Regions from separate parts of the Homo sapiens genome. Here regions 2, 3, 4, 5, 6 and 7 are each reported to be linked to region 1. Evidence: microRNA targets listed by miRTarBase, many of them from high-throughput screens and not tested one by one. Region 1 holds a microRNA gene; each other region holds the end of a gene's coding sequence. Distances are from middle to middle.
What was found. Region 1 holds the annotated microRNA hsa-miR-3133 (UAAAGAACUCUUAAAACCCAAU, at 1,663-1,684, opposite strand). A microRNA usually pairs through its seed, bases 2 to 8, with sites in the 3' UTR of a target mRNA and lowers its output. Matches are read on the target gene's strand: a 7mer-m8 pairs with bases 2 to 8, a 7mer-A1 pairs with bases 2 to 7 and ends in A, and an 8mer does both.

Region 1 (4,077 bases):
TGAAAAGCCTTGACTGTCCCAGGCTGAGTCAGGCAGGATCATAGCCTGTGTCGGAAAGAGGCCTGGCCTTGAAACGGCACTCAGAAGTAGTGATGATGCAGAAGCCACCTTTGTCAGGAGCTCTGTGAGGCTGATAGCAACCAGCGATCCCACCTGGGAGGCAGAGCAGACTCCTGACTGAGCCTAAGGCCTGGCAGCCAGACCCGAGGCCACGGCGTGCTGGATGCCGATGAGGCCGTGGCCGCTTCCTGCCAGTGAAGCGCAGGCTGCTTTTACAGACTATGTGTAGTACCAAGAACTCTGTCCTTTACATGATCTTCGGGGATTGAGTGGGCTGACTGGGAGCATCTGCCTCAGTCTCTGGCCCCCCTCAAGAGATAGTACCCACCTGGCCAGAATGCTCCTCCCCTTGGGGACACCTGGCCTTGGACAGCTGGACCTGTCTCTCACCACCCACCTCAGAAGCACAAAAGGATTCACACCCAGATCTCTAGAAAAATGATCAAAAGCAGGTTCCTTCTCGCAGCCAAGCTTCCTGGACATGGTAGTTCATTGCATCTTGGGAAAGAGTAAATCATTTTTTCAGCTGTCAATACTGTGTCCCTCACATCCTTGAACCTTGTTCTTGCAAAATCTTGGCCTTCTTTCTGGGTTCACTGGCCATACTGTATGGGGTGTTGTGAAGTTTCTTGGACACCACATAGAGGAACTTGGCCTGATCTTCATTCCCATAGTTGTAAGAAGAGCCATTGCTGACCAGTTGTTCAAACTTCCAGCTGTCGGACATGGTGGACACCACCTGTGTGAGTTCCTCCTCCTGACACTGAAGCACGTGGTACACATGCTTCATGGGCACCTGTGATGTTTTGCTCTCTTGTTCTCTAATTTTGTCCTTTACAAGTTTTATTAATGAAGTGATACTGTAAAATTCTGCTTTTTCCAACACTCCTTCCTCCACAAGGTCTTTGTTAATCACCAGCTTGCCACGTCTCAGGTAGTTCAACACAGGCCCAAAATAGGTGGGGTCTCTGTCCATTAAATAGGCAACAGTTTCATCCTTGTCGGGGTTAGCCTGATACAAGGAGTACAGGAAGTATTTCAGGTCCTGGCACAGCATCTGCTGGGTGGTGAGAAAGTAGGTGCCACCAATGTTGAGCCAGAGCCATTTGGACAAGCTACCGGGTGCTGGGCCACGGCACTCTGAGTCTTGCACTGCAGCAGCACAGGTCGCCCCCGCCAGCCCTGCCCTAAGGCTGCCCCAGGCAGGTGGCAGTGCTCGCATTAATTCCTTTTTTTCTGAGACAGGGTCTCACTCTGTTGTCCAGGCTAAAGTGCAGTGGTGGGATCATAGCTCACTGCAACGTTGAACTCCTGGGCTCAAGCAATGCTCCTACCTTAGCCTCCCGAGTAGCTGGGTCTATAGGTGTGCACCGCTACACTTGGCTGACAATAGTTTCTTAGATATAACATCTAAGACACAAGCAACTAAAGAAAAAAAATAGATAAATTAAAAGCTTTCATGTTGTAAATGAAGGCCACATCAAGACAGTGAAAAGACAACCCACACAATGGGAGAAAATGTTTGCAAATCATAGTCTGATAAAGGTCTAGCATTCAGAATATATAAAGAACTCTTAAAACTCAACAGGTTGTCTTTTTACTATTGGGTTTTAAGAGTTCTTTACAATTTCTGAATAAAATAAAAGGTGGGCAAAGGATTTGAATAGACATTTCTCCAAAAAAGGCCTACAAATGGCCAATAAGCACATGAAAAGATGCTCAATATCATTAGCTATCAGGGAAATACAAATTGTAACCACACAAGACAGCATTACACACTCACTAAAATGGCTAGAACCAAAAAGTGACACATGATGTGAGAAACTGGAAGTCTCATACGAGTTGGTGGGAATGAAAAATGGTTCAGTCACTTTGGAAAACAGTTTGGCAGTTCCTCAAAATGTTAAACATGGAATTACCATATGAACCTGTATATGGTATATACTCAAAACTGAAAACATAAGTCCACACAAAACTTGTACATGAACGTCCACAGCAGCACTATTCGTAACAGCCAAGAAGTGGAAATAACCCAGTGTCCATCAGATGAGTGGAGAGACGTGTGATACATGCATGATGGAGTATGATTCAGCCACAAAAAGGAACATGAGGCCGGGCACGGTGGCTCATGCGTGTAATCCCAGCACTTTGGGAGGCCAAGGTGGGTGGATCACAAGGTCAAGAGCTTGAGACCATCCTGGCCAACATGGTGAAACCCTGTCTCTGCTAAAAATACAAAAATTAGCTGGGCATAGTGGTATGTGCCTGTAGTCCCAGCTACTTGGGAGGCTGAGGCAGGAGAATCACTTGAACCTGGGAGGCGGAGGTTGCAGTGAGCCAAGATCGCGGCACTGCACCCCAGCCTGGTGACAGAGCAAGACTCTGTCTCAAATAAAAAAAAAAAAAAAAAAAAAGGAACATGAATGAACCTTGAAAAGATTATTCTGAGTGAAAGAAGAGTCACAAGAGGCCACATTAATGTGTGATACCATTTCTATGAAATGCCCAGACAGGTAACTCCTTAGAGACAGAAAGCAGATCAGTGGTTGCCAGGGGTTAGGGAGCAGAACGAGGTCCCCACAGAACAGCATCCCCACCCAGAACAGGGTTACCTCAGAACAGAGTCTCCTGAGAACAGGGTTCCCTTCAAAATAGTGATGGGAAGTGACTGTTAATTGCTGTGGGGGTTTCACTTTGGGGTGATGAAAATGTTCTGAATTCGACATTGATGGCTACATAACCTTGTGAAGATACTAAAACCCACTCAATTATATATTTTTTGTATGTATGTATGTGTGTATGTATGTATATATGTACCTATTTTATTTTATTTTATTTATTTTATTTTGAGACGGAGTTTCGCTCATGTTACCCAGGCTAGAGTGCAATGGCGTGATCTTGGTTCACTGCAACCTCCACCTCCCGGGTTCAAGCGATTCTCCTGCCTCAGCCTCCTGCGTAGCTGGGATTACAGGCATGTGCCACCATGCCCTGCTAATTTTTTGTATTTTTAGTAGAGACAGGGTTTCTCCATGTTGGTCTGGCTGGTCTCGAACTCCCAACCTCAGGTGATCTGTCTGCCTTGGCCTCCCAAAGTGCTGGGATTACAGGCGTGAGCCACTGTGCCTGGCTGTATTTACTCATTTTTAACAGAGACAGGGTCTTGCTCTGTTGTCAGGCTGGAGTGCAGTGCTGTGATCAGGGCTTACTCCAGCCTCGACCTCCTTGGCTCAAGCGATCCTCCCATCTCAGTCTCCTGAGTAGCTGGGACCACAGGTGTGCGCCACCACACCCAGCAATTCTTTTTTTTTTTTTTTTTTTTTAATTCATAGAAATGGGGTTTCCCTGTGTTGCTCAGTCTGGTCTTGAACTCCTGGGCTCAAGCGATCCTCCCACCTCAGCCTCCCAAAGTATTCAGATTACAGGTATGAGCCACTGTGCCTGGCCAAAATTATACATTTTAAAATGGTGACTTTTGTGGTATGTAAATTATATCTCAATTGAAAAACCAAAGTAGCTCAAAAAACATTCCCAGAGCAAGGTCACTCACCCTGCCAGGAGCAATGAGGTTCTCTATGCCCACCAGGTCCCGCTGCAGCTCCGTTAGCTTCTGCAGGTTCTCCAGCCGGATGAGAATGTGCTGTAGTGTGGTGGTCACCTCTGTGATGGCTTTCAGGGCGTCTGTGTGGAGAGACCCCTCAGTACAGGTGTACAGGCAGTGGTGTGCACAGCACCCTCCACCCACCACCTTGTGACAGGAACCAGCATTCTAAAAGGCAGTTCTAATTAGAGGTACATCCTACTCGACTCCTTATAGCAGCGGTCCCCAACATTTTTGGTACCAGGGATGGGTTTCATGGAAGACAATTTTTCCACAGACCAGAGGTGGTAGGAATGGTTTGGGGATGAAACTGTTCCACCTCAGATCATCAGGCATTTGTTAGATTCTCACAAGGAGCATACAAACTAGATCCCCCACATGTGCAGTTCACAATAGGGTTTGTGCTCCCATGAGAA
Region 2 (4,077 bases), not on the chromosome of region 1:
CCCCTCAGATGCAAGGCAACCCCACTATGGTGCCCCTGCCCCCCGGGGTCCAGCCGCCTCTGCCGCCTGGGGCCCCTCCCCCTCCGCCGCCTCCACCGCCTGGTTCCGCCGGCATGATGTATGCCCCGCCCCCTCCTCCTCCGCCTCCCATGGACCCTTCTAACTTTGTCACCATGATGGGCATGGGGGTGGCGGGCATGCCGCCCTTCGGGATGCCTCCAGCTCCCCCACCGCCTCCACCACAGAACTAGACTTGTTTTTTAAGAAAATATATATTATATATAGAGAGAATTGGTCTCGTTTAAACACGCCGAACCTCACCATATGGAGCCAGACATTGGGACGCACGCATGTGATTGTGTGTGCACGCATGTGTGTGTGTGCACGCACTGGGCTGGGCCAAGCGACTGAGGATTCGCTTGGGAACGGGCAGGTGGTAGTAGGGGCGCCAGCTTGGGCTCTCCTGGCGCCCCGTAGCATCGAGTGTCTTCTTTGTCTTCTTTCTCTCCTCACCCAACTCCCTTTGCCTCTCCCCAAACCGGGCCGCCAGGATCCCTCCCCGCGGCGGCGATGGCCCGAGCCATGAGAGTGAGGACTTTCCGCGCCCATTGGTGACCCTTCCAGGCAGACAGCCTCAGCAACGCCCCTGGTGGACAGGATGGTTCGGCAAAGCAGCCTGAGTTATTTTTGTGGACGGAATCGGAACACGCTGGCTCCATATCGTGAAATTTTTATTAATTTTTTTCTTTTTCCTTTGTTACTTCTTTATCTTTTCCTTTCTTCAGACTCCGTCCAAGGAGATGCTCTCCCCGGTCTTCTGCTGCAATTTAGATTCCTTTCCCTTCTCTCCAGTTCTCCTTCCCTTACCAAGGAGAGGGGAGCAAATGGTTTTGGGCAAGGGCTTTGGCCATTCATGTCAAGCTGGTTGTGGGTTTTTCAAGGTGCCATAGCCACCCCCAAAGATGTTTGTTTAAAGCGTGGGGTTTTTTAATCTCTGCCACCCTTGTCAAGGGAGTCTTGTAAAGTTGCCGAGGGTAGGTTCATCTCCAGGTTTCGGGATTCCCATCCGTCCTGGCGATCCTGCCAGCAGTGGGTGGGCAGCCTGAGCTCCCTCGGGCTCGCCTGCCAGCCTGGAGTTCTTCCTGTGCTCCTTGATCACCTGAGCTGCCTCAGATTCCATTTGGTCCTCTCCTTCCTGGAAGGCTTCCTTTTATGTTTTGTTTTAATCCCAAATGTCTGAATGTTTTGCAGTGTGTAGGGGTTTGAGCCCCTTGTTCATTCTCCTTCCTTTTTCCTCCCGCTTCCCTCTCCATGAAGTGATTCTGTTGACAATAATGTATACTGCGCGTTCTCTTCACTGGTTTATCTGCAGAAATTTCTCTGGGCTTTTTTCGGTGTTAGATTCAACACTGCGCTAAAGCGGGGATGTTCCATTGAATAAAAGAGCAGTGTGGTTTTCTGGGTCTGCTTCTTTATTTTCTTTTTAATGCCTGCCCCGCCCGGTTTTTCTTTTCACATAAACTTCCTCTACCACCAGCAGCAGCAGCAGCACCAAAGGTGCCTTAACTTTCGTTCAGCACCAGGTCCGGGGGGGTGAGACTGTGGGTGGTTAATTAGGGAAGCCCACCACCTGCCTCCTGTGTGTGGCTTTGGTGGTGGGAGCTCAGTGTGTGGGTGGCTCCACAGTCTCCCCTTTGGTGACTAGTTAACATCGCTGAGAACCAATTTTGCCCCTCCTTGTTCACTGCTCATTTTTCTAGTCTCTGTCCTTTGAAGGCTTTTTCCTGGGGCTCAGACGTCCACGTTTGATGAGCTCCAGTGGTGATTTGTGCCTGGAAGCTGCCACCTAAGGCCCTGGGCCTGGGGAGGCATCAACACTAAAGGTCAAGCCAACTAATCCTGCCTGTCAGGCACAGAGCAGCTAAAATTAAAACCGCCAAGTGGCTTTTTTCCTTCTCTGCTGGTGACTTGCAGCCTGCCAGCGCTGTAGGCTTTGGCGGGGGTCGGGGGGACAGGATAAAGTGCCCCATCTTGTGCTTTGCAAGCACTTTTCAAAGGGTCTTCTGCTTTTTTTCCATGTCTTGGGCGGCGAGTGGGTAGTTACTGTTAGGGTTCCAGAAAAATCCATGTGGAGTCTCCACCAGGTAGTGAGGTCCTCTCCTGGGCAGAGGTGCCTTAGAGCTGCCCTGGTTCCACCTGCCTCTCCTTCCTTCAGGGCGGCTGAGGGACAGTAGGCTCCCCCAGCATCTGGCTGCTGGGGCCAGCAACTGGCCTGGGCTGCTTTCCAGCTGTGAGCTAGGGCTGGCTACTGCTGTTTACTGGGGTGTCTGGTCCCCCGTCCAGGAGGCCTGTGCTTTGCTATGGGTCTGCCAGGCTTGAGGAGCCCTCAGAAGCAAGGCAGGCTCAGTGCGTTTCCCCAGCCAAGCCCTAAACTTCGGCTCACCAAAAGGAGGACATCTTTTTTGCCTTTGTCCTTAAGTGGCAGAATGGGGGCAGGGCCTGGGGCCTGGCTACCCTCTTTGACCTTGGCTTCACCTCATTGCTTCTCCCACAAGCTTGGTTTCCCTGGTGGGCTCATTGGGTGGTTAATTAGCTCTTTGAAGCTCTGGAAGCGGCAAAGTGGCGCTATGTGGGTTTTAGAAATAAAATCAATAAATGACTTAACCACAGCTTAGCTATCTCCTCCGCTTCTCTCCCCCAGGCCAGCTCCATTCCTGTGCTCCCTCCCTTTCTGCTCCCTGCCGTCAGCTTTTGTTAAGGTTTTGGAGAGGAAGTGGCTGACTAAGGCATCAGTCTCCAAGGTGCTAGAGGCCCTGAAATGGAAGAGACAGCAGGAAGGCTTGGCCCTCTGAACCGTGGCAAGCACTTGCCTCTGGCAGAATCAGAGAGAGAAAGGCCTGCCCACCTGTCTTAAGACACCTGGGGTGGGAAAGCAAGCCATTTACTCCATCACATTGTGACAGGGCTGTGCTTGCCCCACCCCCTCTCCTCACGTTCATTTCTGCTGCTGTAGCAGCACTGTCCCCGTCCCTCAAGGCCTGGCAAGGCCTGGCAAGAGGAATGCCAGTGGGGAAAGGTCAGCCTCAGGGCTCTGTTACTGAGGTTCAGCCAAGGGCTCTGGAGAAACCCAGGATTGGTCCAAGGAAGGAGGCCGGGTTTCTAGTTAGAAACTTAGACATAAATAACCTCGAGTGAGTTCAGGTTGTAAAAGTGCTTCAGGGTTCATTAAACCTGCATACACAACACCAAGGAGGGGCGGAGGAAGCAGGGAAACAGATGAGATCGTGCTGCCCAGGTGTGATCATGCTGGGCTGGGGCATGCAGTGTCACCCCGGGACAAAGCCTGGAAACAGTGGGGAGTGATGGCATGACAAAGACGGAAAGAAGCCACAGAAAAGGTAGTTGGAGAAAGTTAAAAATTTCCCAGTAAAAATGTTCCTGAGAGCAAGCGCCCTGGGTGCAAGAGGGGAGAGTAGCTGGGAAAGGATGGAATGAACTTGGCCTTCCCTGCCTGTAAGATGTGGATGGTCTATGGGGATCGGGTCCTCAGTGGCAGGAACATAAAGTCTTGCAGGAAATAGGGGTCAATGCAAAGAAGGTGTGTGTGGCCAAAGCAGGCTGCCACGATTGGGCTGTGAGGTGACGGCATGGTTAACAAGCTACTGCCTGCCTGGCAGTGGACTGCCAAGAAGTCTCAGCTCTACTCACAGCAACCCTCCAAGGGACAAGTGCGGGCTGTGAAGAACCTTGGATGCCAGGCCAAGCTGGAGTCCAAGCTGTGCTTAGTGGAGGATGGGGATGAGGCCCAGGAGCTGAGGCTGGGGTGCAAACTGTGAAAGGGGAAGAGACCAGACAGCTGCCAGCATTGTTTTTTTGTTTGTTTTTGAGACAGAGTCTCGCTGTGTCGCCCAGGCTGGTGTGCAGTGGCGTGATCTCGGCTCACTGCAACCTCTGCCTCCCGGGCTCAAGTGATTCTCCTGCCTCAGCCTCCCGAGTAGCTAGGATTACAGGCATGTGCCACCATGCTTGGCTAATATTTGTATTTTTAGTAGAGACGGGGTTTCGCCATGTTGATCA
Region 3 (4,000 bases), not on the chromosome of region 1:
AGTGACAGAGCTGGAAAGAGCGAAAACCACATGAATGCTAATTGACAGAGAAGGATAACAGCCTCACCGGCTGAAATGAAAGACGGAGTTTCGGAAGATTTCCTTCTGTGAATAGCTGACAAGGATCACGCAGGCAAAAATGCTACCGTTCCAAGCTACAAACTTGGGACTAATCCCATGTTCATTGTCCAAACCCAGCAACGGAGTACTTTTTTGCTGTTTCATTATGGATTTCCATTTTTTTTTTTTTTTTTTGGCAGTTGGGGGTGGGGTGTTCTGGTTTAATCATATTCAGAGTTTGAGCTTGAAATAACCAACTCAAGACCCACAGGAGACTATGTCACCAGATAAACCCAGTGCTAGAATCCAATGTCCAGCATCTTCAACCACTCAGGAGTGTTTGCTGAGAGACCAGGTGGTGCTTACCCACCCAACAAGCACTTTCCATCTTTGGGTTTGCCCAAGATGTTTACCATAAATGAAAGGGGTGGGGAAAGGATTATAGTTGACACAAACATAAATTAAATATCCAATTCCAGCATATGTTACAGCTACATCACTATTTTTAATTGTAATATTTCTAAAATGTCATTTAATCTCCTTACACATTGAAGAGAACAAACAGTGGGAGTGTTTATTCCTTAAGAGAGAATAAACTGCAGAGATTAAAAGTTTCCTTCGAGTGTATCATCTTATTAAAAAGTACAAAGTTTCATGAACTTTCAACAAGACTGCAAAATAAATATGCCAGGTAGGTTGAGCCTATCCAAGTGAAAACAAGGTTATTTGACATTTAGTGAGAGTCAATGAAAATATGAATTATTTCAAAGGAATTCATGATCCAGGTAGGAGGATTTAGATCCTACGGTATGTTAGAATAAAGCTAGTTTCTAGCAGATTCTGTTAACAGCTCCAGACTAGAGGGGACGGAGTGTGCTGCTTTCCATTCTCTTCTCTACTTCTGTCACTGGGGAGAAGATACACGGATCACAGGTCTGAGAAGTGTGCATTAAAGCACATTTGCTAGGCTGAGCACTGGAATGGTGTGGGCTGGTGTGAAAATGAAGCCTACGTCTTCTTGGACCCTCCCAGAGCCCTTCACCTCAAGGGTTAGACATCTCTCCTTCTCTAAACTAACAGCAGCACTCAATCCCTGGTGTGTCCGAAGTGGTGCTTGGAAAGATTCACAGATACCAAGAGGGGCCCACCCAGGCCCCAGCTTGATTTAGGAGTGTAAGTTACACTCAGCACTCAGCCCACGCTGAGTCTGATGCCCACAGGTAAAGGGTAATGCTGGCCATCGAAATACAAAAGCTAAAGGAAGCACAACATTCTCTCTGCCTCCCTGCCTTGCACCTGGCCTCCTTATCTGTCTCCCAGACTTGAAAGATCAGTGTATACACATCAACGCGGTAGACCAGGGGGAGTCTGACAATGAAAGGAGAGACAGCCATGAGATCAGGGTGGGACTGGTAAGGGAGCTCTTCTCTGAATCCAAAATACTTTATCACCAAAGATTTCATGAAATGACATTTATTGTTTAAAAAAGCGTGAGTCTGGAATTAGATAGTGGTGATGGTTGAACAAGTTTGTGAATTTACTAAAACCACTCAATTGTACGCTTAAAAAAAAAAGCAAGCTTGAGCTGCCTAAGTCCCGCTCACACACACTGGACTTGTACTAAATGCTCAACGATTCCATTCTCTCAGACTATGGAACATTCTGTCACATTTTTTTCCTTCAGGAGATTTCCCTAAGAAGAGCTGTTTGCAAAATATTGCACTTAATTTGAATCCAGGGGGACCTGATGTCTCCTGGAAGAAAACGTACACTCACATGCCTTCCTGCCTGCAGCAGATGGCGGGAGTGGTGGGACAAGGGGCTCAACAGCAGTTTCCATGAACATTGTTTCCATCTTCCTCTTTGTTATACACACAGAGACACAGATTTAAAGGAAAGTATCATCTGGGCTGAAGGCGGTGAATGGTATCCCCCAAACAGGGATGTGAACTTTTGAATGTTTTCAGCTCAGAGGCAGTATGGTCGTCCTAATACCTCAGGACTTATGTTCAGTGAGATGTTAAGAGACAGGTGGCAACCTTGGCTCAAACACTGGACTTAATTTATTTTATTCTTGCTAGTCTTTCACTTCTCAAAGACGATGCTCTCAATCTTCATCCAGGTGAACTGCTCCCACTAATCTAGCCACCATTCAGTCACACCCTACGTCCTCGTTTCCTCATGCTTTCAGCGTTCCGACACCTCAGTGCACTTGAACTTTAGAGGCTATGGTTCGGTTGTCCTTCAAGGAAAAAACTGCAACATGACCATCATTTGTTTTCATTTCCTGAGTAAGCTTTGCAGTCCCTCACAGACCTGTGAATAAGATGAATCACATAAAGTGAATCATATCCTCCAGGGGGGCTTATCACAATCAAGATTTGCCAAAAAACAGCCAGGCATGGTGGCTTGTGCCTGCAGTCCCGGCTGCTTGGGAGGCTGAGGTGGGAGGATCCCTTGAAGCAAGGAGTTTGCAACCAGCCTGAGCAATATTTAGCAGAGCCCTGTCTCAAAAAAGAAAAAAGATTTGCCAAAACACAAACCTTCAGAGTAGTGCTCACAGGATTCCAAATTAATGTTAAAGTCACAGTCTGATGAGGGATTTGAAAACATTCCTGCACACTCTGAAGGCTGGGCATTTGCTAGCCAGTTGAGACAAAATCAGGTGTTGGTTGCCTGGGTATGAGAAGGTGAAAGCCCCATTCATAAATCCCTATGCCTTCCCATTTAAAGTGTAACAAAACCCCTCAGGTAGACTTGTTGGATAACAGGTGTGTGATAAGATTTCCACGTTACAGGGTCATACACGACTGACTGCTGTGGACACTGAGTACATGACGGGACCTATGGTCCCCTGGAGAGAAGCAGGGTGGATCACACGGGGACCATAGGCCACAGTGTTTAACACTGCCCAAGCCTGTGATTCTTCATTCCCTGAATCATGCATATCCTTGCTTTTTATAGGACTCACAGAAAACAACCATTAGCAATTGTGAAGCTCAATTCTGACAGAGACTTAGGAGAGAGACCTCTTTCTTCAGGATCACCAATTATGCCAAGGTCTCAATATACAGAGGTTTACCACGCTGGGCTGGTCAGGTGGGCAGGAAATCGGTCTGATTAAGGCAGTGAGCAAGGTAGGAGAGCTCTGAAACAGATTCGTGTTAACGAAGTACAAGGACTGAGTTGGCAACTGCTACGGAGTTAAGAGAATTGTAGTTATTTACACCACACAGTCCTAGTTTTTCTTACACACGAGTCCGCACAATCATTCACTGTAAAATTTGGTAGTATGCACAGAGTTTTCTTTAAAATAAAAACTTGAAAGAACTTGAAGGCAGGAACCAGTGGCTTCATCTTGGTATTATCATCCTTTCTATGGCACACAGGATATGGTCCCAGTTTTTACAAAATATAGCAAGAAGAGTCACGGCAAAGAAGGTGCCAAGAATGTGGCAGCGACTCTTCATCATGGGTGAGACGAACTTCGCGATGGTGGACACACACACTAAGATGACAGTCATGAAGGCCAGGATCACGTTGATGCACCTCCCCAGGAGAACTTTAGCATTCACGGTGTCTGTCTGCAGAGCTTGCTGCTCTTGCTGGTGGAGCTCCAGCTTAGAAATGCGAGTCTGGCAGGATTCCAAGGCTTCCTGTGAGCAAGAGGGAGAGCAAGGGTCAAACGGTGTTGGGATGGTGAGCAACACGTGAGTGCTCGCTCAGCTGTACACAAAAGCCCCAGCTCAGAAAGCCCAATGCCCAGGCGGCTGCAAATCCCCAAACCGATGATGATGGTGATAGACAAAGATGTGGAACAAGAATCCCAGGCTCATTTTCTCCTGTTGTTCACGAGTAGAAGAGCATGTGGATACAACCACAAAATACCATAAATGAGGAAGTATGGCTAAGTTTTTTGACTTTACCTGTTTTTTTTGAG
Region 4 (4,077 bases), not on the chromosome of region 1:
GAATCACTAGAATGCATGCTCGCTGGTTTCACCTGGGTCCTGTGTTCCCCTTTGGCTCCATTGCCCTGCACAGGGAGCCAAAAAAGTCTTGCTCCTTTTTCAGAGGCCCTGTGCTGGTAGGCTGGGCAGGAGGTTGGCAGAAGAGGGGCGGTGAGGGCTGATTTGCTGCCAGAGGTTTAATGTTGTCCTCGTTCTGTTTTCAGGGGAGGCTCAGAAGCAAGAAGAAGATGAAAGTTGTGCCGCTGCTGAGGCGTTGACAGCGCCTGAGGATGCTGGGAGGCCCGCTGTCAACTCCCCAGCAAATCAGAGCCGCGGGAACCAATGCAAGCTCTTTCATCCTTCATTACCCCAGTTACCTTCTGAGGAAGAAGTAAACAGCCTTGGGAGGGAAATAATTAAACTGACAAAGGAACAGGCAGCTGCAGAACTGGAAGAGGTCAGAAGAGAGAGTCCCATAGAAGGTCAGAGGAGTGAGACGGGGCCAGCCCCGCCAGGCCTGGCCATCCAGGGGGAGCTCCCTAAATCTCACCTGGACTCCTTCGAGGCCAGCCGGCCAGCAGCCAAAGCTTCCACACCGGAAGACGGCAAAGGGATCCCAGAGGGCGGAGGCATGAGGAGCACCGTGAAAACCTGAAGGGGAGAGGGATCTGACACAATGACACATTGAAAGCCCCAGAGAGGGTCAAGAATGAAGCATCGGAATGGTGCGCTCACGTCGCCTTCTCCTGAAATACCTCCGAGTCTGCAAGTGAGAAAACGCACTGATCCTGTTGCAAACTGTGAATATTCTGATGATGCCAGTACAGTTTGATTTATTAAATGTAGGTCCTCAAGCTTCTCAGTGTCATCTCTTTTCTGCCAGAGAGTGCTACTGTGAACAGGGCCAGGCCCAGGAATCGTGTCCACCATATGGCTGGTTTTCAGCATCCGTCTTTCTGTCAGCTTTTGTTTTATCAGAGATAAGATGTTTTTGTATTAGCATTTAATGTTGTCAATCAAAATTATGGGAAGAGCTAGAAACTGATGGGGTTTTTAATCAGGTCCCCATCTTGGTCAAGGTTAGGCAGCTGGAGAGGAAGGTATAATTGAGCAAAACGTGTCCAGAGGACCCATGGCTGCACCCCATCAAGTCAGGGCCCAGGAGGACTGCCTGGCATGGGTGTGCTTGGCATTGTGCCCACAGCACTGCTGTCGTGGTACAGACTGGCAGTTGGAAGGGGCCTTAAGCCGGCTGAGAAGTTTGGGCTTCTGGGTTGAAATCCACAGCCCCGGTTGAGGCCTGTGTGCTGAGTGCCAGAGCTGGAGTTTTCTAGCTTGTAAATCTGGAGAATTAACTGATCTGAAGTGACTGGGAGGGGTGAGCATAAAAGCCGGGGAACAGGACTCCCAGTGGTGGTCTGGTTTTTTTTGTGAGATGAGATGAGAGCTACCACCTGGAAATGCTCATTCTCTGCATTCAGCCTGTCTCACATACAGGATTGTATGGCCATTTCAGGTTTGGGAAAGATCTACCTGCTGGGAGCCAGTCTAGTTTCCTGCACCACCTGGAACTTCCAAACCCTTCACTCCTTCAACAGAATGTTGAGGCTGCCTCATTTGTGCCACCAAGTACGGGAATCTTAAAGACAGAAACAGAGCTCATGACCTTTTATGGGAAAGAGAGAGGAAAACAAAACAACTTCACAACAGCATGGCAAGGGGGGATGTGGAACCAAGGACATGATACAGGGATGGGAAAGGAGGGCATGCTCAATTCTAGCTGGTTCTTTCCTTTCAGATAAAAATGAGCTTTTCTAGTTGGCATCCGGCACTGCAGAAAACTAAAAGTCATCCAGCCATAGCTTTTTCCTTCCCTGGAAAGCCTGAGACTAGATCCCAAAGCTCAGAATGCCTCTGAGAACCAGAATCACTCCTTTGAGAGGCGCTCCTTGCAGGAAAAAGAGAGGCTCCCAGAGTGGTAGCCTCTCAGTGAAAATGCATCCTAAAAATTCAATGTTTATACCAGGCTCATGACACTAAGATGTGACATCTGGACACGAGGGGTCAGCCACGTGGATACATCCCTCCCAGATTGCATCTCCAGGAATCACTCTGCTAGCAGAATGGGCGCCCCATCCCTTACTATGCTGCTCCTCCTCAAAGTGCAGCCCAGAAGGACCCAGGCCTTTGATGCACATTGGGTGGGTCTCCCACTACTTTAGTTGAAATGGGAGCATGCTGGAGTCGGCGTTCTGTTGCTTCTGGTGAGAAGGACATCCCATTGACCCCTGGCCACCAGGTCCAGTATTCCATCCTTCCTTCTGTCCCAGCCTATCGCCCTCCCCACCAGGCCCACCCCCACAACTTCTCCTCAAGGGAGGTTGCTCCCGCAGCTGGAGGGCTTGCACAGACCAGCAGTCACAGAAATCATTCTTCCTGCTGTACTGGGCCTTAACTGCCTGCAAATGTCCAGCACTACTGCATAGGATGCCAGAGCCACCGAAGGAAAACACAGCCAAGTTTAATAATAATAAAAGGAAAAATCTCAGCCTGCAGAACTCTGGTTTTGACCCACCATCGGCCAGATGCACATCTTCAGGGCCTGTTGAGCACCTTCTGAAAAGCAGGGCTCGTAATAGACTCCAGCACATTCCATCAGAGTCAGGAAAACTGCAGTGAGTCCCAGAGAATCTAGGGTGCAGGGCAGGGAGCAGGAGTCATAAGGAGTGATAACCTAAACTGTGTGTAGTCAGCGGGGAGGGTCTTATGTTATCAGGTGAAATGAGAGCCAGTAAGTTAGTTGATCCTGTCACAGATATAACCCTGATAACACCCCATAGATACGCGACACGTGTGTCCTGCCCCTGCTTTCCCCATCCAACATGGTTCTTCTGTTCCACAGACATTAAAGGGGCTTTCTGCAATTACTTACAGCTGTCTTTTGTCTTTTTTAGGATCAAAGTTTAAGGTTGTGGCATTCTGTCCCCTACTTCACTAGATAACCCTGCATCAGTCATGGTCCTCTCAGCTTCAAGCCACACTTAACAGAAACTTAAGCGGTAGGGAAATGAATTATGTTGTATAACAGGAACTTCGAAAGTAAGGCATTCCAGGGCTATACATTCAAGAAAGTTGTCAAGGTTCTAGGTTTCCATCTTCCTGCTCTTCCTGCTGTGTCAGCTGCTTTCTCATGATAACGAGGTGGCTGCAACAGCTCCAGATAACACCTGTTCAAAGGCAGAAGGAAGTTTCTTCCCACATACGTGTGTGTGTGTGTTTCAAGAGCGAGAAACCCAGTTCCTATCACATTTTATTGGTCAGAATGATCACCTGGGGCTTGTGGTCGCATGAGACCTTGTCACATGATGATGTCACATGGCAATGTCTTAACCATTTCTTAGCAAGGGAGATGGTATTACCATGATCTGTTTAGGTTCACCAAGATTCACCCTTAAGAACTGAAGAAGGGCCCTGTCGCTAGACATTCAGACTCTAAAAGGCTGAACACCAAAACAGAATCATATCTTGGGATGTGTAAGAGAGTTGGGAATAGACAACCAATGGTGCTGTCTCTGAACCCCATGTCTTTTTGTTGCTGCATAAAAAGCCAGAAAATCATGTTTCCGATGAGTTTGGAGTTAAGGGGAGGGGCTATGGTTGTTTGCTCAGAAAAAAGCCATCTCATCCCCCCTCCCTGGCATCTTTCTGATCTGTCCTGTTCTGTAGGTGGAATGTTCCCACCTTTGTTTGCCTGTTCAGACGTGTTTGTCCTTCCATTATTTTTCCGGCTGGATTGCCAGCAGAATGCAGAGCAGCCTGGAGAAATGAAACAGAGCTGACAGGTCTCTTAATGAAAGCTTGTTTGCACACTCTGCCTCTCCTGTGATCGCTCTGTGCCTGAGAGCCTCTAGGTGTGGATTTTTACATGAGCGTTTGTCTTTCTTTTGATTAAGGCCTGTAGAAGTGGATTGGTTTTTGTAAACCAGGCATTTCTCATCCCTCACTCTTGCTCTTCCTCCTTCCACACCTTCTCTGCCCACCTTCTTCTCCCCTCCCCGTTCCTTCTCTTGCTCCCACAGCTATTCCCAAAGCCTCTCT
Region 5 (4,077 bases), not on the chromosome of region 1:
AGTACCTATTACTTGTTTATAATATGTAGAATAATCTACATAACCTAGTATACATAAGTATGTATTATATATGCATATAATAGATACATAGATACAGGAAAAATTTGTAATTACAAATGTCTTACAAAAGAAAAATTATGTCAACTGACTAAATAGTTTCTTACAGAGTAGTATGATTTTTTTAAAAAAGTCCCCAGTTGCTAAAATATCAACTTTTCCTTGATAAATTTGATTTTTATTAATTTGGCTAAATGTGTATTTTTTTCCTAGTCTTAAAAAAATTGGCACAATAGCTTATGCCTGTAATCCCAACACTTTGGGAGGCTGAGGTAGCAGGATAGCTTGAGCCCAGGAGTTGGAGACCAGCCTGGTTAACATAGTGAGACCTCATCTCTACAAAAACTTTAAAAAGTACTCAAGCATGGTGGCACATACCTGTAACCCAGTTACTCAGGAGGCTGAGGCAGGAGGATTGCTTGAGCCTAGGTCAGGGCTTCAGTGATGTATTCGTGCCACTGCACTCAAGCCTGGGTGACAGAATGAGACCCTGTGTCAAAAAAAGAAGAGAAAAAAGTAAAATTAAAAAAAATACTTCAAATTGTTGCATAAAGGGAAAAGTAAGAACTAGATTAATTACAGATAGAGCTGTTCTTATCTATGCTTCTTTTTTTCTCCAGATGTCCTTGCTCCACAGTATCCATGGCAGTCAAATGACATGTCGATGAATATGTTACCACCAAATCATAGTAGTGACTTTTTGTTGGAACCTCCTGGGCATAATAAAGAAAATGAAGATGATGTAGAGATTATGTCAACGGACTCCTCAAGCAGTAGTAGTGAGTCTGATTGAAAAACCTTAAAAGACAATATACAGAATTGAATACTGTAGAATTCTGTTTCTTTAACAGTAGCAGGGAAATGTAAACTACAGGTGACAAAAAATACCCAGGTAAACACTGGCTTTGGTAGAATTGTGCAGTCATTAAAAGTCAAAATTTTTTGACTTTCTTTTTAAAGCCAAAGACCATAGTTTTAGTTTTAAGCCACTAGGTAGATATTTAGGGGAATAGTCAAAATTTACTGTTGAAAAAGCAGTTGCTATGTGCTTTCTTACCCTGTTCTGTTCCAGTTTTGCTGGATTTGTACATAGCCATTCTAGAAATAGAGTTGAGGGAAATTATCCATATACATATCACTAATAGGCTTCTTGGAATTATTTAGAAAAGCATTTTTAAACTGGCAGTGGATGACTGAATAGGCATCATATTTCTTTTTGTGTGTCATTTAAAAGTAACAAAAACTGCCATTTGACAGTAAAGGCTCTTGGCTTCTGTTGGAGGCATGGGAAATTGTCTCAATTTGTACAGTTTGTAATTGTAATTTTTGTAAATAAATTTGTTTGTACATTGTATGCTTTTTTTTTAGTTTAAATATACTGTCAGTGTAGGTAGGAAATTATTTCTGTAAATCCAGTTGCATTTTATAATACTTGAGTGACTAACTGAATTGAAACCTATTACAATTAATAGGGTTCTCAAAGGCCTATTCCTATTAGAAGAAATAATTTTTTTTAATAATTGAAAAAATTTACCACAGCCTTGTCTGATTTTAAGAATAGATTGTGTGAAGATTTAGAATGGAAAGCAACCATTTCTTCCCTTCACCTTCCTCTTCTTACAGTTCCCCAGGAGTCATTTTTAACCACTTTTAATTTCTGTTGGTAACCTCTGTGTTTAGGTAATATGCTTATACAACTATTTCTTGATGTATCAGTTTTAGACAATGTATCTTCTGATTTCAAAGGTAATACAACATTTAATGTGAAACATTTAGTGAATACAGTAAAGGAGAAAATAAAATTGTTAGCATTCTACCCAGAGATAATATCAATTCATATTGTAGTGTAGATTTTTTTAAAGTTCACATACACTTTTTTGTAAAATGAGAATAATGTTTATTTCCTGAGATACTGCTGTATTTTTTAATTGCTAATCTGTATTCTTCAAATGAACTGAGAATTCCATTTTTCCATCATTTTTTCCTTTTGATTATTTTCGATCTCTAGAAAAATTGGAAAATAGGAGATTAATCTTATATTTTCACCATCTAGAATTAAGGACATACAATGTTTGAATGTCTTTCCCTCCAGGGTTATTTTTAGGAATGGACTAACACAATATCTAATTTTAACCTTGCCTTGTCCGTATACTAGGAATATTGATCCATGTGTATACATTCTTGAAAGATTTACTTTAATGGCTAAAATTTTATTGTGGTATGTGCCATAATGTAACTGCCTGTTTTTATCACCAAATCTTTAGGGTAGATTCAAAAGGATTGTGTTTTTCAAATTCTTTAATACTGTATTAGTTTTCAGTTGCTGCCGTAACAAATTACCACAAACTTGGCTCAAAACAACACAAATTTATCTTAGTTTTGTACATCACAAATGTGAAGTGGGTCTCACCTAAAATCAAGGTGTGAGCAGGGCTGCATTCCTTCCTGGAGGCCATAGGGGAGAATCTGTCCCCTGTGTCTTCCAGGTTTTAGAGGCCGCCCTTGGTCCTGCTCCAGGCCCCTGGTTGGTGAGTGTTTCTCATTCTGCATTACTGTGATGCTCTTCTGCCTACCTGTCCCATATTTAAAGGATCCTGTGATCATTCTGAGCCCACTGGATAACCCAGAATAATCTTCTTATTTAAAGTGAGATGATTAGCAACCTTTATTCTGTTTGCAACCTTAATTCTTCCTTGCCATGTAACAAAACAACATTCATAGGTTCTGTAGATTGGGATTTAGACATCTTTGGGGAAAGGGGGTCATTATCCAGCCTATCAGAAATAATCCAAACTTTTCCCCTGAAAATTACACAAATATACATTCTATCAGTACTAAGTCAATATCATAAGTCTATATATTTCTGAATTTTTTTTTTTTTGGAGACGGAGTCTTGCTCTGTCACCCAGCCTGGAGTGCAGTGGCTCTATCTCGGCTCACTGCAAGCTCCACCTCCTGGGTTCACGCCATTCTCCTGCCTTAGCCTCCTGAGTAGCTGGGACTACAGGTGCCCACCACCACGCCTGGCTAATTTTTTTGTATTTTTAGTAGAGACGGGGTTTCACCATGTTAGCCAGGATGGTCTTGATCTCCTGACCTCGTGATCCACCCTCCTCAGCCTCCCAAAGTGTTGGGATTACAGGTGTGAGCCACTGCGCCCAGCCTGAAAAATTTTTTTAAAGGTTTTTGTGTGTGTCCCAGTAGATGCCCTTAAAATAACTGCCTCTGGAAATGATGTCTATAAAAGGTCATAAACTCAAATTTATCTTCAGAGACGAGGCCACTCACACAAATGTAAGGAGTTGGCTAGATATTACTTAACAGGGAGTGGTAGAAATTTTGGCCAAAACTAGAGTGTATGCCCAGGCTTTTAAAATTAGATTATATAAACTGTGGGACAAATCTAGCCCAAAAGTGCCTGTTTTGTTTGTTTGTTTCTTTGTTTTTCCAGAGATGAGGTCTTACTTTGTTGCTCAGGCTGTTCATGAACTCATGGCCTCAGGCAATCCTCTTGCCTTAGCCTCTCAGAGTTCTGGGATTACAGGCCACCATGCTGGGCTCAGAAGTACCAGTTTTTGATCTTGGTATAACTTTGTGCAGTTGTCGCTTTGGGAAGCTAGAGTGAGATCTGCCTAAGAATTATGTATTCTGAGGTTGTGAGTGGACAAATCCATCCCTCAGCTGCATCAGCAGTTATTTTTAAGTGGTAAAGGGAAACACCTTGGGGATAAAAACAAAGGGTAGAGGAAGAAAAACATTTGCAAAGCCACACTTCTGTAGGCAGATTTCTAAATTTGTTCATAGGAAGTTACTATCTTGTATTTGTTTCTCCAATGTCCCCTCTAAGGAAATCTGTAGGCTGTTTATTCTTTCCTACTGATAAGTATAACTTTTAACTCTGGGGATGTCGGTCAGCTTTTTTGAAATGATCTTGGTGCTAGAAAGACTTGTAACTGTTTAAGGGTCTCTCTTCCACTAATCTTATCCTCCTAAACTTCTGCCATACTTGTGACATGTGAA
Region 6 (4,077 bases), 210 Mb from region 1:
AAGGACCATATTTGAACTGATCATTAATCAATTCATTTTGCAGATCATTGGTTTAGGTGTACTCAGGAGACCAACAACAATATCTTCTCTTTGTTTGACCCCTCCTGTGTCACATGTATGATCACAGAAGAGACCATGTTTTTGGAAGAGAAACAGAACTGGCTTTCCATTGAGGCAAATGAGGGGGCTGCCCCATGGTGGAGACACACAGAAGGGTGGGAGAGGGACTCTATCTTTCATTGGAATAGTCTAGTAAGTTACCAGTTCTAACTTGGCATCTAGGACATATAAATCATGCATTTACTTATCCAGCAACCTTTTCTAAGCACCTTCTCTGTGTCAGGCCCTGTGCTAGGTGGAGCTGGAAGATATAGCTCACTTGCTTGTAAGGAACTTGAAGTCTGTGTGGGGGACAAATGTATAAACAGAAAATTACAGTTCACCATCTTAGTGTTCCAGAGGAAAGAAGCACTTAGTATGAGGTACCAGGAAGAGGTGGGGAGAAGGGAGTGGCTTTACATCCTTAAGTTCTGGGTGTTTGAAGAGCAGCCTTAGACACTAGCCACGGAGGTGGGCTTGGGTAGGCCCCGCCGTGGGGTTTGAAGACCCAAAAGATGTTGGGTCAAGGAGGACATGGGTGTCTAGTGTGGGAGCAAGCAGAAGGGTGAGCTCACCGAAGCACTGTTTTACCCACTGTACTACGTTTCTATTGCTGCTAAAACAAATTGCCACAAACTTAGTGGCTTAAAACAAGGGCGTTATCTTCCAGTTCTGGAGGGCAGGAGTCTAACTCAGGTCTCCCTGGGCTAGAATCGAGGTGTCAGCAGGGCTGGGTTCCTTTCTGGAGGCTTTGGGGGAGCATCCATTTCCTTGCCTTGCCCAGCTTCTAGAGGCCACCTGCATTCCTGAGTTCATGGCTCCCTTCTGTCTTCAAAGCCAACAACAGTGGGTGAGTCACTCTCACATTGTTTCACTTTGACCTCTTCTTTTATTTTTCTGAGACAGGATCTTGCTCTGTTGCCCAGGCTGAAGTGCAGTGACATGATTATGGCTCACTGCACCCTTGACCTCCAGGGCTCAAATGATCCTTCCATCTCAGCCTCCCAAGTAGCTGGGACTACAGGCATGTAGTACCATGCTCGGCTAATTTTTCTATTTTTTGTAAAGATGGGGTCTCGCTGTTGTCCAGGCTAGTCTCCAACTCCTGCGCTCAAGTGATCCTCCTGCCTTGGCCTCCCAAAATGGTGGGATTACAGACATGAGCCACCACACCCTGCCCACTCTGACCCTTTCTGCCTCCTGCTTCCACTCTTATAAACGTTTGCGATGACATTGGACCCACCTGGATAAACCAGGACACTCTCCCTATTTTAAGGTCAGCAGATTAACTTCCTGAATTCCATCTGCAACTTTTTTTTCTTTTTTTTTTTTTTTTGAGACAGGGTTTCAGTCTGTTGCCCAGGCTGGGGTACAGTGGAGCAATCATGGCTCACTGCAGCCTTAACAACAACTGGGCTCAAGTGATCCTTCTGCTTCAGCCTCCTGAGTAGCTGGGACTACAGGCACGTGCCACAACGCCCTTCAAATTTTATTTTTTGTAGAGATGGTGTTTCCCTATGTTGCTCAGGGAAGTCTTGAACTCCTGGGCTCAAGTGATCCTCCCGCTTTGGCCTCCAAAAGTGCTGGGATTACAGGCGTGAGCCACCGCACCTGGCCCACAGGCAGCTTAATTCCCTTTTGCCATGTAACCCACATATTCACAGCTTCTGGGGATTGTGATGTGGACATTGGGGGAGGCACTGTTCTGCCTCCCACACCCACTTTACCTTCAGGGTGAGGTCTCGGCCTGGCCTATCCTTTCATGGTATCTACCTGTAATCATGGGGAAAAGCCTTTAAAAATTAGGCAAGGGAATTAAAATCATCACGATAAGTAAAAGCAGGCAAGGAACTTGCTGGAGGAGAACAGAGATAGAATAAGGCAGAAGTGTCTATGTATGGGGGGGGGGAGTCAAAAGGGGTGGTGGAGGTGATTGAGGAATAAACAGATATGAATTGCTTATTTAAGGCTTGAACCTGGTGTCATGAGAGAAATGGTGGTGGTCTCAAAAGGGGCCATGGGGTGGGGCCACAGAAGAGACACGGCCCCATCTGCATGTTGACCATACTCAGGGTGGTGAGGAAACCAGCGCTGTCCTGCAGCTGGGGGAACCTCAGTGGTCTTTGGGGATGAGCCCTGAACCTCAAGTCAAGAAGTGTGAGTTCTAGTCCAGGTTTCAGCCACGGTGATTGAGTCATGCACGTGGGCCTCTGACCCCTCATCAGTAAACCGGGGGCTGGTCTAGATGACCCCAAGGCTCTCACATTCATTTCTGCACTCTTGGTCTCTGCTGGGCTTCTGGGACATCGGTTAGTATGGCCTTTTGTTAGGCACATGCCAGGACTGGGGCTGTGCAGGTGATGTGGAAGGGTTCCTGATTCCCTGTTCCCACTGGAGCCTGCTCTACAGAAGGAACCCCTTGGATGTTGCTGTCCCGGGCTTCAGCACTCAGAACTCCTTGCTCTTTGTGGCCATCCCAGCTCTCTCTGTCACGTGAGCCCTTGTCCCCAGCTGAATCACTATGATGAGTTGTATGAGCTTTGACAACAGGTGGGGGATGACATGCAGTCCCCCTGACCCAAAGGAGACTGAAACGAAGCACCTCTTGGCCAGGCCACCACGGTGCCCCACAGCCGCTTCACCGGCTGTCCCTTGTCATGGCCACGGGCCCAGACCTAGTTCCTCCTCAGTGACGGGGGGTTGGGGCCCCTACCTGCCCTCAGAGCCCTACCACCAGTGTTGGGCATTGGGGCTAGGCTGGAGCTGGGCTCTGAGCCCAGAGCTGGTGGTGGTTTCCAGGCCTGTGGGAGGGTGACAGTGAGGCTGTGCTGCCGCTATCACCTCCGGAGAGAGCGGTGCATGGGAGGTGGAAAGCACTGGACCTGGACTGTGGCTCAGTTGAGGGACACATGGCATGTACTTTTACCACACAAGTTTATTTAAATAAAAGTGAACACATATGCAGGCTGGTGCCCGAGGGGCAGGGGGTGGGGAGGGCAGGTGGGAAGCAGACAGACAATGGGGTCCAGGCAGAGTTTGTGTGGTGAACCAGGCTGCTGGAGGGAGTGGCTGGGGGCCTCAGGGCAGCGCTGGGATTCAGTGCTGGGGCAGGGGGCCTTGGGTGGGTGAGCCTGGTGCCAGGAGGTCATTTCCATCCCTCACATGCCCCCCTCCCTTTCCCTGACCCCCTGGGCCTACAGCACTACCTCCTCAGCCCCCTCTCCCTCTCCTGACATCAGCCTTCCCCTTAGCTACTGAGAAGCCAAAAGACAAAATAAATTAGAATGGGTGAGTCCTACCCCAGCCCCCAGCCATGGGGAAGGGAAGCCAAGCCAGGCACACTGCGCCGGAGCCCGTGCTGTCAGCTCTGGAAAAGAACAGGTAAAGTGCAAGGAGAATCCAGTAAGTAAAAATATACCAATGACTTTGTCAAATACACAGCTGCTGGCTGTCAGGAGCAGGTGGCTGGCTGGGGCGGGTGGCAGCAGCACCCTGGGAAGTGTTGGGCGACACAGCAGAGAGACAACGGAAATAAATAGGGTGGGTGTGGACAGGGGTCCCACCAACTGGGCCAGCACCACCCAGGACGGGCTTCTGCCTGCTTTCCGGCCCCATGCCCCCAAGCCCCCCTCGCCTGGCTCCCCAGTGCTGCAGCACTGACACAAAGCACCCGGCCGACCGTGTTAGGAAAGGACTATAATGTGGGAGTGGAGCAGGGAGGGAGGCACGGGGAAGCTGTGCAGTCAGCCAGGGCTGCGGCCGCCCTCAGTACTCGTCCTGGTCTTCTTGTTGATGCTCTTCAATCTCATCGTCCTCAGGGGGTGCGAATCCTTCCTGGAGGGTGGGAGAGAGAGGAAAGTGGTGGGCCAGGCAGGCCAGGCAGGGCTTCTCAGGTTCTGTAAGTAGCTGAAGAGCAAGGGGTCAGGAGTCCAGGAGCCCTGCTAATGGGTGACCCTGGGCTAGTGACTTCACCTCTCT
Region 7 (4,077 bases), not on the chromosome of region 1:
TCAGTGTAGCTGAATTCCCCTAATAAATAAAAAGGTCAACTGTCAGTAGGAATAAGTATGTTTTCTGGTTTTCCCCTGAAATAAAATTGGTCAGTCAATGCTGACAGGCCAGGCATATGTTCCTGAGCTGATCACATTAAATATACACAATTTCTCTATCCTGCGACTACTTTCAAAAGCACATTGTTTCATCAAGGTTATCTCAAAACACTAGTACTTGCATATAGTGTATCATCTGCTCTACTTCTGTACTTTCTATATTATACACTGGGTTTTGCTTCCCCTAACACTTGAATAAAACATACTGCCAAGTTATAGTAGATTCGTATGTTCACACTTCATGGTTATCTTATGGTTTAAATGATGGTTACGTCTATTGTACTATTACATTCTTCCCAATCCTAATTTGACACCTGTTCATTTCCTTCCAATTTACCACCTTTTTGTTCCCATTTACATTATTTTCCTTTTCTATTACACCCGGTTCCCTCTGAAAAAGAGGATTTAAACCACGTAAGTAATAGGTACTAATCACACAATCTTTGCATGTTGGGGTAATATTAACATCAGAAGTGAAATACAAGAGGAGCCCTCCTTTTGAGAATCCCAAATTTAGCATCCATTCCCACCTGACAGCTTCCAGTTAGCTCATCCCACTGAGACAGCAGCAATTTATTAATTACCCTAGAAGAAGTTTCCCAATTATACGTTATGCAGCACCAGAAAAAAATGTTACTAAGGATTTTTTATCTACCTCCTCTCCTGCTTTCTAACCCTGAAATGAAAACTGCATTCTTGAATGATTGCAGGACATTTTCTTAGATTTCATGGCATATTGAGAAACTTGTGTTCTGAATTTTATCCCAAATTAAAATGTTTTTACTTTTAAATCTTACTTCCACTACTGCAGTGTAATCAGACTATCAATCTGAAATCCCTCAATTATTAAATCAGAAATCACTCAATTATTACCGTCAGATCTAACCCCTTTACCTGCACTGCCATGCCTACTATTCTGAATTTCTATTGAGCCAACTCAATTCTTACTTTGCAGGGCCCAGGGTTAAGTAATGTCACACTGACTATAAGCATATCATCTGATAAATGGCCTTTAAAAACACTAGCCCCTTTCCCAAAAAGCCTGTACTTATCTGCATTAGATCAGATTTTTAAAAGCCTTTTACCATGTGGTATTTCAATCCTGGTCTCTTTACTTTGCTACAGTTTTGGCCTAGGAACCTAAATGTCAAAGTACTCAATGAGTACACCTGTGATTATAGAAAACCTAGAGTACTGTTGTCTTAAACACGAGGAAATTTAAGCCACAGTAGCGTAGCCTAAAACCAAGAGCGTGAAATGACTTCCCCATCAACACAAACTAGACATGTCAGTATTCCAACAACCCTACCATATGTGTGTATAGATTTTCAATCTGTGATCATGCTCTACGGCTATTTGCAAAAGTAACTGCAGCTAATTAAAAGTAATGGCAAAAGCCACAATTACTTTTGCACCAACCTAATATTAAAAAGCGCTCTCCACAGCTTCATTCAATACCTGCTTTCCTAGAATAAAATGTATAGTTGGCCCCCCATGTTCATGGGTTCTGCACATGCAGATTCAGCCAACTACAGATCGAAAATACTAGCAAAGAAAAAAAACTAAAAAAAGTTAACAAAAATATAAATAAAAAAAGTTACAACTATTTACATACCATTTACATTTTATCAGGTATTTTAATGTAGAGATGATTTAAAATATACAGGAGAATATGCATAGGTTACATATAAATACTATGCCATTTTATGTAAGGGACTTGAACATCTGCAGATTGTGGTGTTCACAGCTAAACAGACTGCTCTGTGCAGGGAGAGGCCCTACAGTGAAGGGAAAAGTAGACACTTGATTGTGGACTAATTTGTTCAGTATTTCCCAAAAACTTACAGCTAACAATAATATTAAACAGGTTTTATTAGCATCTTATACATCTGACACTCTCTCCTAAGCATCCAGTTTATTTTCTAGTCACGGGTTACTTACTAAAAGTCTGTGTAACATGAGCTCACATCAGATTAGAAAACATCAAGTGGGTAGTATTTTTGACTGAATTAACATACAAAAGAAATTGCCTATATCATGTATATGGGCTCCAAGGGTAGTTCATACTTCAGCCTCTTCATTCTTTTCTGCTTTTGTCACCTGTTACAGAAAATGATCTATAAAATCCTCATAAATAAGACATGAGTTTTGCCTGTAATGAGTAGGATGAAAAAAGGCCAGTGCCGCATGCTATGAAACAATAGCAACTTTACAGGGGAATCCAAGGTTTGTGTGCACAAAAATTATAAGCGGCATTTTCTGCTATGCTGGAAAAACTGAAGTATAAAACACAAATGAACTAAGCCTTTCAAGGATGAGGTATCACCAACACTGGTAGCTGTTTAATATATTCATCTTACAACTGGATGCTAAAAATGCAATCACTGTAATTAATAAAGTTGAGGAAAACACAAAGATTAGCTAACAGGGGTAAAAGATCATTTAGAGTAAAATAAATGTGTAACATTCTCTATGTTCTCAATCACCTGGGAAGGCAGTCTATGGAATATCAGGAAGTAAGAGTTTTCTTGTTTTCAGGAACATGGAGGTATATACACTTCAGAATTCAGAAGGTAACTGGGGCTATAAATAGTAATTAAAAGAACAAAATAGAAGCAGGGGGGTTCCATTATGCAGCTGTCGCCATTTTCCTGAAATCTTGATGTTTTTGAGCCTCTCCTATTTAAGGACAAAACCATTTAGCACAAAACACAAACCTCAGAAAGGGTGCCAGCTGGACCACAAAGCACTGATGAAAAGGCAGAGAGGATATACTTCCCAAACTTTCATTAGGATGTAAAAGCCATTTTGAAAAAGTCTCCACTCTATGTCAAGTTGACTCCTCAATGCAACATGCATCTCAATGAAATATAATTTGAGTAGTGTTGTGTTGGTATGCATCATGATTATGACTCCAAGAAAAATATATCTAGTGCATTCTAGAGGTTTTGTGGAGGACGCTGTAAAACAAAGTTTGAAGTAAACAATAATAAAATACAAAAATAAAAAACCAGGGTTTTTTTTTTCTCCAAATTCCTGGTTTAATAAGGACTTGTTTATTTTGAGGAAAAAAGGTCCCAAACATCAGGCTGTTCACAAAAATAACCCACAGTATCAACTTTAGAAAACAAATCTTAAGACTATAACACTAATTATTTTTCTAGAGGATGCATTTGACATGCCAACTCTCATTCACAAAAATACATTGTTACATTTGTGTTGAACTGCCCCACACAGCACACTAATGTGAGGGTGTAACACACATACTTCTAACTCAAAGCTGCTTTCAAGAGCTACTCAACTAAATGAGATTGCCTTTGCAGTTAGGGAAGCAACTACTGAACTTATGTATGAATGAAAAGAACTGTACTCCCTGCATAACAAGAGATTATTTTGGAGACAGTTGATAAAAACCATACATCCTTTTTATTGTTAAGTCATAAAGAGGTATCAAAATTAAAAGCAAAAATTACAGGGTAAGACTTAACAAAACTACTAGGAGCGTCAAAGGAAGTGAAAATGGGACTAGGCGCGGGGCAATATGAATTAATGAACATGGGAAGGACAAGGATGGGGAGAACAGTGAGCATGTGCTGAAGATACTAGGGGAGAGGATCTGGTGAAAAATTTGATCTTAGACAAGCGCCTAGGTAAAGAAATAATGGGATAAGATTTCTAAACCCCACTATGTGCTTAAGAGTCATCCTCGCCATTGGCGCTGTCTCTGTCATCCTCTCCTTCCTCAGCCTCTTTTTCATCATCCTTGATCAACTCCAGCTGTGAGAAACAGACACAAACAGGATGGAGTTAGAGGCACTCCATGTGTCCCTGAGCCCCCCTCCACCACCTTTTTCTTTCCTTTCCCGTGGTTTTCACCTGGTCATCCCCCCGATCTTCATTATCATCATCATCCAGTAGGTCCCCCTCCTCAGCAGAGTCATCTGCACCCCCCTCAGACTCCATCTTCACATTAGTCTC

Region 2: miRTarBase lists SF1 as a target of hsa-miR-3133. Seed matches in the 3' UTR shown: 7mer-A1 at 762-768.
Region 3: the mRNA of TMCC3 is a reported target of hsa-miR-3133. Seed matches in the 3' UTR shown: 7mer-m8 at 3,385-3,391.
Region 4: the mRNA of CCDC149 is a reported target of hsa-miR-3133. Seed matches in the 3' UTR shown: 7mer-m8 at 1,763-1,769.
Region 5: the mRNA of MED4 is a reported target of hsa-miR-3133. Seed matches in the 3' UTR shown: 7mer-A1 at 898-904.
Region 6: miRTarBase lists MAPRE3 as a target of hsa-miR-3133. Seed matches in the 3' UTR shown: 7mer-m8 at 3,472-3,478.
Region 7: the mRNA of HNRNPC is a reported target of hsa-miR-3133. Seed matches in the 3' UTR shown: 7mer-A1 at 3,751-3,757, 7mer-m8 at 3,458-3,464 and 7mer-m8 at 2,699-2,705.

The regions. Positions count from the first base shown.
Region 1 is chr2:241,475,521-241,479,597 of GRCh38, reverse strand. MIR3133 (microRNA 3133) reads right to left here and starts at 1,693; the gene lies at 1,616-1,693. It overlaps FARP2 (FERM, ARH/RhoGEF and pleckstrin domain protein 2), which reads right to left. Exons shown (of 27, transcript NM_014808.4): 19 at 3,611-3,741. It also overlaps the pseudogene KCTD5P1.
Region 2 is chr11:64,761,992-64,766,068 of GRCh38, reverse strand. SF1 (splicing factor 1) reads left to right here. Exons shown (of 13, transcript NM_004630.4): 13 at 1-1,463. The coding sequence ends at 251. Among named protein-coding and RNA genes, the nearest start is that of PYGM, 4.1 kb to the right of the region's middle. RefSeq lists enhancers at 1-332, 333-1,207, 2,132-2,181, 2,232-2,331, 2,802-2,851 and 3 more.
Region 3 is chr12:94,568,022-94,572,021 of GRCh38, forward strand. TMCC3 (transmembrane and coiled-coil domain family 3) reads right to left here. Exons shown (of 4, transcript NM_020698.4): 4 at 1-3,716. The coding sequence ends at 3,414. It overlaps MIR7844 (microRNA 7844), which reads right to left and starts at 3,331; the gene lies at 3,210-3,331.
Region 4 is chr4:24,804,946-24,809,022 of GRCh38, reverse strand. It overlaps CCDC149 (coiled-coil domain containing 149), which reads left to right. Exons shown (of 13, transcript NM_001395273.1): 13 at 204-4,077. The coding sequence ends at 634. Among named protein-coding and RNA genes, the nearest start is that of SOD3, 11 kb to the right of the region's middle. RefSeq lists an enhancer at 1-280.
Region 5 is chr13:48,073,912-48,077,988 of GRCh38, reverse strand. It overlaps MED4 (mediator complex subunit 4), which reads left to right. Exons shown (of 7, transcript NM_014166.4): 7 at 678-2,265. The coding sequence ends at 850. It overlaps MED4-AS1 (MED4 antisense RNA 1), which reads right to left and starts at 852. Exons shown (of 3, transcript NR_046511.1): 1 at 638-852; 2 at 436-547.
Region 6 is chr2:27,026,136-27,030,212 of GRCh38, reverse strand. MAPRE3 (microtubule associated protein RP/EB family member 3) reads right to left here. Exons shown (of 7, transcript NM_012326.4): 7 at 2,994-3,933. The coding sequence ends at 3,865. Among named protein-coding and RNA genes, the nearest start is that of TMEM214, 4.8 kb to the left of the region's middle.
Region 7 is chr14:21,207,431-21,211,507 of GRCh38, forward strand. It overlaps HNRNPC (heterogeneous nuclear ribonucleoprotein C), which reads right to left. Exons shown (of 9, transcript NM_004500.4): 8 at 3,976-4,077; 9 at 1,717-3,876. The coding sequence ends at 3,793. Among named protein-coding and RNA genes, the nearest start is that of LINC00641, 2.6 kb to the left of the region's middle.